Linked DNA regions of Homo sapiens: region 2 is linked to region 1. The links come from fine-mapping of genetic effects on gene expression. A gene starts in region 1. The other region holds a variant in brackets. All regions are shown on one strand. Distances are between the middles of the regions. Region 1 holds the start of RBM6 (RNA binding motif protein 6). Region 2 overlaps RBM6 (RNA binding motif protein 6).

What was found. PIP is the estimated chance that this variant, and not a neighbour inherited with it, causes the effect.
Region 2: its variant is the best candidate, but not a certain one, in a credible set for the expression of RBM6 in blood mononuclear cells (TOPMed, PIP 0.68).

Annotation. Positions count from the first base shown.
Region 1 is chr3:49,937,955-49,942,218 of GRCh38, forward strand. It overlaps RBM6 (RNA binding motif protein 6), which reads left to right and starts at 2,196. Exons shown (of 21, transcript NM_005777.3): 1 at 2,196-2,271. RefSeq lists enhancers at 1,826-2,348, 2,057-2,116, 2,147-2,196, 2,227-2,286, 2,349-2,870 and a silencer at 2,427-2,626.
Region 2 is chr3:50,055,252-50,059,515 of GRCh38, forward strand. RBM6 (RNA binding motif protein 6) reads left to right here. Exons shown (of 21, transcript NM_005777.3): 9 at 2,477-2,752; 10 at 3,151-3,311. Among named protein-coding and RNA genes, the nearest start is that of RBM5, 32 kb to the right of the region's middle. The variant T/C (reference allele first, on the strand shown) is at 2,425.

The DNA of each region.
Region 1 (4,264 bases):
CAGGTAGAAGGGCTGGGAGGGCCAGGAGCCAGGGCCTTCTGTGGGTGCACGGCCATCAGCCCCTTTTCTTTCTTTCTTTTTTTTCAGACGGAGTCTTGCTCTGTCGCCCAGGCTGGTGTGCAGTGGCGCAAATCTCGGCTCACTGCAAGCTCCGCCTCCCGGGTTCATGCCACTCTCCTGCCTCAGCCTCCCCAGTAGCTGGGACTACAGGCGGCTGCCGCCACGCTCGGCTAATTTTTTGTATTTTTAGTAGAGACAGGGTTTCACCGTGTTAGCCAGGATGGTCTCGATCTCCTGACTTCGTGATCCGCCCGCCGCGGCCTCCCAAAGTGCTGGGATTACAAGCGTGAGCCACTGCGCCCAACCTCTTTCTTTTTCTTTTTTGAGACGGAGTCTTGCTCTGTTGTGAGGCTGGAGTGCAGTGGCGCGATCTCGGCTCACGGCAACATCCGCCTCCCGGGTTCAAGCAATTCTCTGCCTCAGCCTCCTGAGTAGCTGAGATTACAGGCATGCGCCACCACGCCCGGGTAATTTTTGTATTTTTAGTAGAGACGGGGTTTCACCATCTTGGCCAGACTGGTCTTGAACTCCTGACCTCGTGATCCACCCGCCTCGGCCTCCCAAAGTGCTAGGATTACAAGCGTGAGGCACTGCGCCCGGCCTCTTTCTTTCTTTCCTTTTTTCTGAGACGGAGTCTTGCTCTATTGTCCAGGCTGGAGTGCAGTGACACAGTCTAGGCTCACTGCAATCTCTGCCTCCCGGGTTTAAGTGATTCTCCTGCCTCAGCCTCCCGAGTAGCTGGGATTACAGGCGCCTGCCACCAAGCCCGGGTAATTTTTTTTTTTTTTTGCGACAGTCTCCCTCTGTCGCCTAGGCTGGAGTGCAGTGGCGCTATCTCGACTCACTGCAAGCTCCGCCTCCCGGGTTCACGTCATTCTCCTGCCTCAGCCTCCTGAGTAGCTGGGACTACAGGTGCCCGCCACCACGCTCCACTAATTTTTTGTGTTTTTAGTAGAGACAGGGTTTCATCGTGTTAGCCAGGATGGTCTTGATCTCCTGACCTCGTGATCCACCCGCCTCGGCCTCCCACAGTGCTGGGATTACAGTCGTGAGCCACTGCGCCCAACTTCTTTCTTTCTTTCTTTCTTTTGAGACGGAGTCTTGCGCTGTTGCCAGGCAACAGTGCAGTGGCGCGATCTCGGCTCACTGCAACCTGTGCTTCCCGGGTTCAAGCAATTCTCTGCCTCAGCCTCCTGAGTAGCTGGGATTACAGGCATGCGCCACCACGCCTGGCTACTTTTTGTATTTTTAGTAGCGATGGGGTTTCACTATCTTGGCCAGGCTGGTCTTGAACTCCTGACCTCGTGATCCACCCACCTCGGCCTCCCAAAGTGCTAGGATTACAAGCATGAGCCACTGCGCCCGGCCTTTTTCTTTCTTTCTTTTTTTCTGAGGTGGAGTCTTGCTCTATTGTCCAGGCTGGAGTGCAGTGGCACAGTGTCGGCTCACTGCAACCTCTGCCTCTGCCTCCCGGGTTTAAGTGATTCTCCTGCCTCAGCCTCCCGAGTAGCTGGGATTACAGGCACCTGCCACCAAGCCCGGGTAATTTTTGTATTTTTGGTAGAGATGGGGTTTCACCATGTTGGCCAGGCTGGTCTAGAACTCCTGACCTCAGGTGGTCCACTCGCCGCGGCCTACCAAAGTGCTGGGATTACAGGCGTGAGCCACCGCGCCCCGCCAACCAGCTGGAGATGGCTTAAACTTACTCCCGAAGAAGCTCCCTTCCATTTCTCTCACACTAACGGACAATAAGGAGGCCTCGAGCTAGGCAGGCCAGGGCCGTACCCGAGCTGCTGGCAGGGAGCAAACCTCAGGAAAGTCAAGCCACCAAAAAACTGTAAGCCTCAATCAACTGAGAGGAAAGCACAAGAGGACCAGGTGTCACAGGGCAGAGGCCAAACCACAACTCCCAGCAGGTCACGCGGAGTAGGGCGGGTAAGCGCGCCTTCTTATTGGATGGCGATGGACAGCGTGCTCTTACGACCCACCCCAGAAGGCAAGTCCCCTGCGCGCGGGGCACGGCGGGAGTAAGAGTCTGCGGGACCGGCAGCTGTACTTCATCTCCCAGCGGGCCGAGCGCTGAAGGCAGCGGCGCGGCGCCTTTGTGGTAGCAGTGGCCCCGCGCGGAGGAAGTTCCGGTGTCCGCGGCGCTGGGTCGGTGGCGGAGGCTGAGGAGAAGGAGGAGCGGGCCGTGGAGGCTTCGCCGCCTAGGTAAGGGCCCGGGACTGGAGGGGAGGCGTGCCAGAGCCTGCCAGGGAATAGCCAGCAGACAGGCCCGCTCTAGACATCGCAGGCCCGCGCAGCCTGAAAGCTGTGGCTTCAGTGTCGCGGGGCGGCTGCGGCCTCGCTCGGGAAGAAGACCAAGCAACGGTGAGATGAGGGAGGCGCCGCCCGTGGCAGGAACGCCCCGGAACCGTCGCGGGCCTGGGGCGGGGCCCGGCGCGGCAGTAGATTACCGGTCCCGCCGCGGAGCGGCCAGCTGTGAGGCTGGGGCCGGCGCGTGGTTGCGGCTCTGTGCTCCTACTCTTCGGAGCTGTAAGCGGGCTGTTCTTGCGGTTTTCCTGTTTCAGATCCAATTCTGTGGCATCACTAGGAAGGGAGCTCTTGTGCTTAGCACGTAGCCTCGTCCTCAGACTTGGACAGACACAAGGGAGGCTCCGCTGGACCGGAGGGCACAAGAGCTCCGAGCCCGGTCGTCGGGGCGGTAGAACCTGGAAGCGGGAGAGTGGTCTGGTGGGTTCTGCGCCCGTTAGGCAATGAAGGAGAAGGATGTTTTATCGTATTCACGCTTTAGATTCCATTAGCGGTGTAAATAGATGTTTTTCTCTTTATTTTAGAATTGACGTTAGGCGAATGGGTTCAACTTTGGGAATGCCTTTTTTTTTTTTTTTTTTTTGAAGGAAGGGCCCTGTTTCGTAGGGTACATAAACCGTGAGCGTAATTGTATTTTTTGCATATTCCAGGTTTGCTTGTGAAGGTCAGAGTAGCCGGATTTAAGTGAAGGAGTTCAGTAGACATGCAGACATGGTCACCTGGTTCATTTTCTGAACCCTGGATTGTGCCCTCGGCTTGCTAGTTTCCACCTTCCTATTGAGAAATGCCACCAGCGTGAATGATTTAAATATGTCACCATTACTGAATTTGTGAGGTCTCTAACGAGAGGTGTCAAGAGCTGGTGCGTGATGGTAGGACTGGCAGTGAAGAAAGTAACTAAATAATATGTTACCATTTTGGTGAAACACAAAAGTTGAATTTGAACCTTGTCTCAGAAACTAGCATCTAACTAGATACCTAACCTGCAGGACAGGTCCCAGGTCTCTCTGGATAGTTGTAGCACCTTTCCTTATAGAATTCTATTACCAGGCCGAGCCTGGTGGCTCACACCTGTAATCCCAGCACTTTGGGAGGCTGAGGTGGGGAGTTCGAGACCAGCCTGACTAACATGGAGAAACCGCGTCTCTACTAAAAGTACAAAATTAGCCGGGCATGGTGGCACATGCCTGTAATCCCAGCTACTTGGGAGGCTGAGGCAGGAGAATCGCTTGAACCTGGGAGGCGGAGGTTGCGGTGAGCTGAGATTGCTCCATTGCACTCCAGCCTGGGCCACAAGAGTGAAACTCTGTCTCAAAAAAAAAAAAAAAAAAAAAAAAAAAAAACCCGCAAAACTCAACAAAAACCAACATAGTAGAGGCAGCGTTTCGCCTTATGCCCAGCTAATTTTTTGTATTTTTTTAGTAGAGGCGGAGTTTCGCTATGTTGGCCAGGCTGGTCTTGAACTACTGACCTCAGGTGATCCACCTGCCTTGGCCTCCCAAAGTGCTGGGATTACAGGCGTGAGCCACCGTGCCCGGCCCTGTTATAGTATTTCTAAAACAAATTGTGAGCCTGGGCAACATCGCAAAACCCTGTCTCTACAAAAAATACAAAAAAAAAAAATTAGCCAGGCGTGGTGGCATGCTCCTGTTAGCCCTAACTACTCAGGAGGCTGAGATGGAAAAATCGCTTGAGCCGGGGAGGTAGAGGTTGTAGTAAGGGGAGATAGTGCCACTGCACTCCAACCTGGGCCACAGAACAAGACTGTCTCAAAAAAAAAAAAATCAATTAAATAAATTGTGGTAAATATATATTTTTATGTATGTTTATGTATATTTTAACAAAATTTGCTCTTTAAACCATTGTTAAGTATACAATTCAGCCAGGCACG
Region 2 (4,264 bases), 120 kb after region 1:
ACCCTGTCTCTACTAAAATTACAAAAATTAGCCACAGGTGTGGTGGCACATGCTTGGAATCCCAGCTCCTTGGGAGGCTGAGACACTAGAATCGCTTGAACCCAGGAGTCAGAGGTTGCAGTGAGCTGAGATCTCGCCACTGCACTCCAGCCTAGGCAACAGAGTGAGAAAAAAAAAATTGCAGTTTGGTGCCCAACTTAACGTAACCTGTTAGTAAATGATTTCAGATCTTATTTTCACCAGAGGAAAGAGATAGGGTTGTGGGCTCCTAGGCTAAAGTGGCTAAGTGGGCAGCTGAGCAGAGGTCAGTATATTGTTATTTGGAATACATTTAAGGATTAAGGATGTTAGGTTGAAAAAGAGTCTTTATGACATCAGTCTGTGTGGCAAACCTTTCTCCCACTCCTACTTCTTTGAAGTTATTGGGAATCATTTGCTCTATTGTTTTCTCTTTTACATTCTGTAAGCATTTCAGGATTTTCAAGAGAAAAACATTTGTTAAAATAACAGTAAAAACATAAATAGGAGAAAATAATCAGGATGTGGGGAACATTTTATTATTTTAGAGGAATAAAACTACCAGCTTCTCAAGCACTTATCTTTAATGTAAATTTCTTTAGAGAAATTTCAGGTAGGCAACTTCGAAGAGTCAGACACATGCATCCATAACAACAGTCCTGTAGTCATCCCTTAAGGAAAGCCACAGCATGACCATAAAATATAGTTCAGTGCAGGGATTCAGGTAGCCTTCTGTTTGTTGCAAGGTTAGAGTTTAATGTGCCTACAAGGAGTTTCTTAGGTGGGCTTTTGTCCTCTTGTGGAGATTTTACTCTGGTGAAGACTGAAAGGCAGGTGTTCTGAAAATCTTTAGGGGAAGGCTGTGTATGTTCTAGAAACCAAACCAAAATGTGGGAAGGAGGATGAACAACTGAGATTTTTGCTTGTTAGGTCACTTCAGGTTAGGCAAAGTTGTGTTTTTTTCCCCCCACAAGAAACACTTTTTTTCAAAGCTATTCCAGCAAATGAATAGATAGTTTTTTGTTTTTTTTCTTTTTTTTTTTGAGACGGAGTCTTGCTCTGTCACCCAGGCTGAAGTGCAGTGGCGCAATCTCGGCTCACTGCAAGCTCTGCCTCCCAGGTTCACGCCATTCTCCTGCCTCAGCCTCCCAAGTAGCTGGGATTACAGGCACCCGCCACCGTGCCCAGCTAATTTTTTGTATTTTCAGTAGAGACAGGGTTTCACTGTGTTAGCCAGGATGGTCTCGATCTCCTGACCTCGTGATCTGCCCGCCTCAGTCTCCCAATGTGCTGGGATTACAGGCGTGAGCCACCGCTCCCGGCCATGAATAGATAGTGTATGAAAACCACTGGGCACCATACCACTAAGATGAGACAGCTTTAATCTGGAAACCTGTCACTGCTATTATGTAATCTCTATATTGCTCTCATATAATACCTCTTTTTGAGCCACATGGATTCCAGTGAACCCTCCAAGAATGAATTAGTTACAAGAATGTGCCCCTAATTATAAAACAAACTATAAAGACAAATTATCCTGCTGTAGTAGGACATTTGAAATAAATCATTTATATTTTGAAGGACGTCTGCCCATTATGTTTATTTGCATATAAAGGAGCTACGTGCAGATAGGGTCTGTTCCTAGCTTCACTGGAGGAGGGCCTGTGGTCTTACAGGATATGAGTAGCTGTTTGAGCACTGTAACACTGGAAGAAGCAAGGCTTCTAGATGTGTGTTTGGGATATGTGTTTCTACTAAACCTTAAGTAAGGGCCATATCTTCGGTAATTTTGTCCCCAGATGTGTTGTTATCATTGATTATGATAGTCAGGTTCAAGGTGTCATGAAGGATTTGTTATATTTAAATGTTTAGTAGGTGATATAGAGATTTCATAAGATTACATTTTTTAAATGCTTGGATAGTTTCTTCTGTGAACTATTTCATGTCCTGTCTCAGCTTCACTTAAAATATTTTGTCAGGAACTGTCAGAGGACTTTTTATTAGATATTTCTGAGATAATATTAAAAGCATTCCAGGCCGGGCGTGTTTGCTCACACCTGTAATCCCAGCACTCTGGGAGGCCGAGGCAAGTGGATCACCTGAGGTCAGGAGTTCGAGACCAGCCTGGCCAACATGGTGAAACCTCGTTTCTACTAAAAATACAAAAAATTACCTGGGCGTGGTGGTGGGCACCTGTGATCCCAGCTACTCTGAAGGCTGAGGCAGGAGAATCGCTTGAACCCGGGAGGCAGAGGTTGCAGTGAGCCAAGATCATGCCATTGCACTTCAGCTGGGCAACAAGAGCAAAACTCCGTCTCAAAAAAAAAAAAAAAAAAAAAAGGCATTCCAGTATGAGTATTTGCTGGCAGGTAAGGAGAAATTACAGTAGCAGTGTTTTTTCTTTTT[T/C]TTTTTTTTTGATAAAGCTTTCTAGAGATTCTCTTTGTTTCTGTTCCACTAGTGACAGAGGCCAAGCAAGAATTAATAACCTACCCTCAGCCTCAGAAAACATCCATACCAGCACCATTGGAAAAACAGCCCAACCAGCCCCTAAGACCAGCTGATAAGGAACCTGAACCCAGGAAGAGGGAAGAAGGCCAAGAGTCACGCTTAGGACATCAAAAGAGAGAAGCAGAAAGGTATCTGCCTCCTTCTCGAAGGGAAGGGCCAACTTTCCGAAGAGACCGAGAGAGGGAGTCATGGTCTGGAGAGACACGCCAGGATGGAGAGAGCAAAAGTAAGTAGTTTGTCAGGGCACATACCAGACTGTGATCATCACAATGGAGCATAGATGGCCAATGTTATGTCCGGGAGCTATCTGCTTTCCAGTACCCTGAGAGATCTGTGCATGACCTGATGACAGAGGCCATTGCTGTCTGTGGACCTTCCTGTACTGCTTAAAGGAATCTATGCCCTTCAAATAGTAAATTGCTATATGAATGCAGTAAGGCATGATTTTAGATTTCTAAGTATTGGTGAAGAAAAGTATGCAGTATTTATTTGTTTAGCATTTTTTTACAGAACCAGCCTTGCTAGTAGCATCTATAGTAAAAAATGACAGTCAGATTCTTGGGACTTCAAAAATTTATCTTTCTCTCCCTTGTGTTGCCCTTCTCCCATTTATGGTTGATTCAGCTATCATGCTAAAGCGTATCTATCGTTCCACACCACCTGAGGTGATAGTGGAAGTGCTGGAGCCCTATGTCCGCCTTACTACTGCCAACGTCCGTATCATCAAGAACAGAACAGGCCCTATGGGGCATACCTATGGCTTTATTGACCTCGACTCCCATGCGGTGAGTTTCCTCCACCTTGGATTGGCCTAGAGACAGATGGCTAAAGAACCTTCAAGAAGGTTTGACTGGGGGCCGGGCCTGGTGGCTTACGCCTGTAATCCCAGCACTTTGGGAGGCCGAGGTGGGTGGATCACGAGGTCAGGAAATCAAGACCATCCTGGCTAACACGGTGAAACCCTGTCTCTACTAAAAAATACAGAAAAATTAGCTGGGCGTGGTGGCAGGCGCCTGTAGTCGCAGCTACTCGGGAGGCTGAGGCAGGAGAATGGCGTGAACTCCGGAGGCGGAGCTTGCAGTGAGCCGAGATCGCGCCACTGCACTTCAGCCTGGGTGACAGAGCGAGACTCTGTCTCAAAAAAAAAAAAAAAAAATTTGAGGGACTTCTTGATCATTTGAATTCTTGTGTGCTACCTGATATCATAATCCCTCTTGCTCTCTCCTTTGGGTTTATTGTTCATTCAGGTCAGGTGACAGCCCTCAAAAGTTAGGATCCCGTCTGGTTTTCTAGGTTCATTTTTTTCTTGTGTCATTTACTGTTTCCAACTTACTCGCTTGTGAAGAATCTGAGTACTGAATCCTTCATGATTTTAGTGAACTTTCTGATTTATTTTGTCCAGCCACAGATGGTTTTATATTTGATGATAAAACATTTCCTCTTTTTCCTCAAAGTATTTATAGATTCCTGTGGCTTAAATTTTTAGTTGCGGGGCCTTTTTCTATGGAAGTAAGGTGAAGATAATGAAAGTCATTGGTATTTCTTAGATTTTTCATGCTCAAAAGTCACAAGGGACTTTGTAAACTGAATCTGATTGATGATAATTGCAACCTAAAAGAAGAGGATTTGAATTTCTGAAGTTTATGCCAGAACTGACATCTATTCTGATTCCTGTTCCAATCAGTCCTTCATTAAAAGTTGCCTGTTTCTGCCAGTATGCTCTTACTGTTAAAATTTT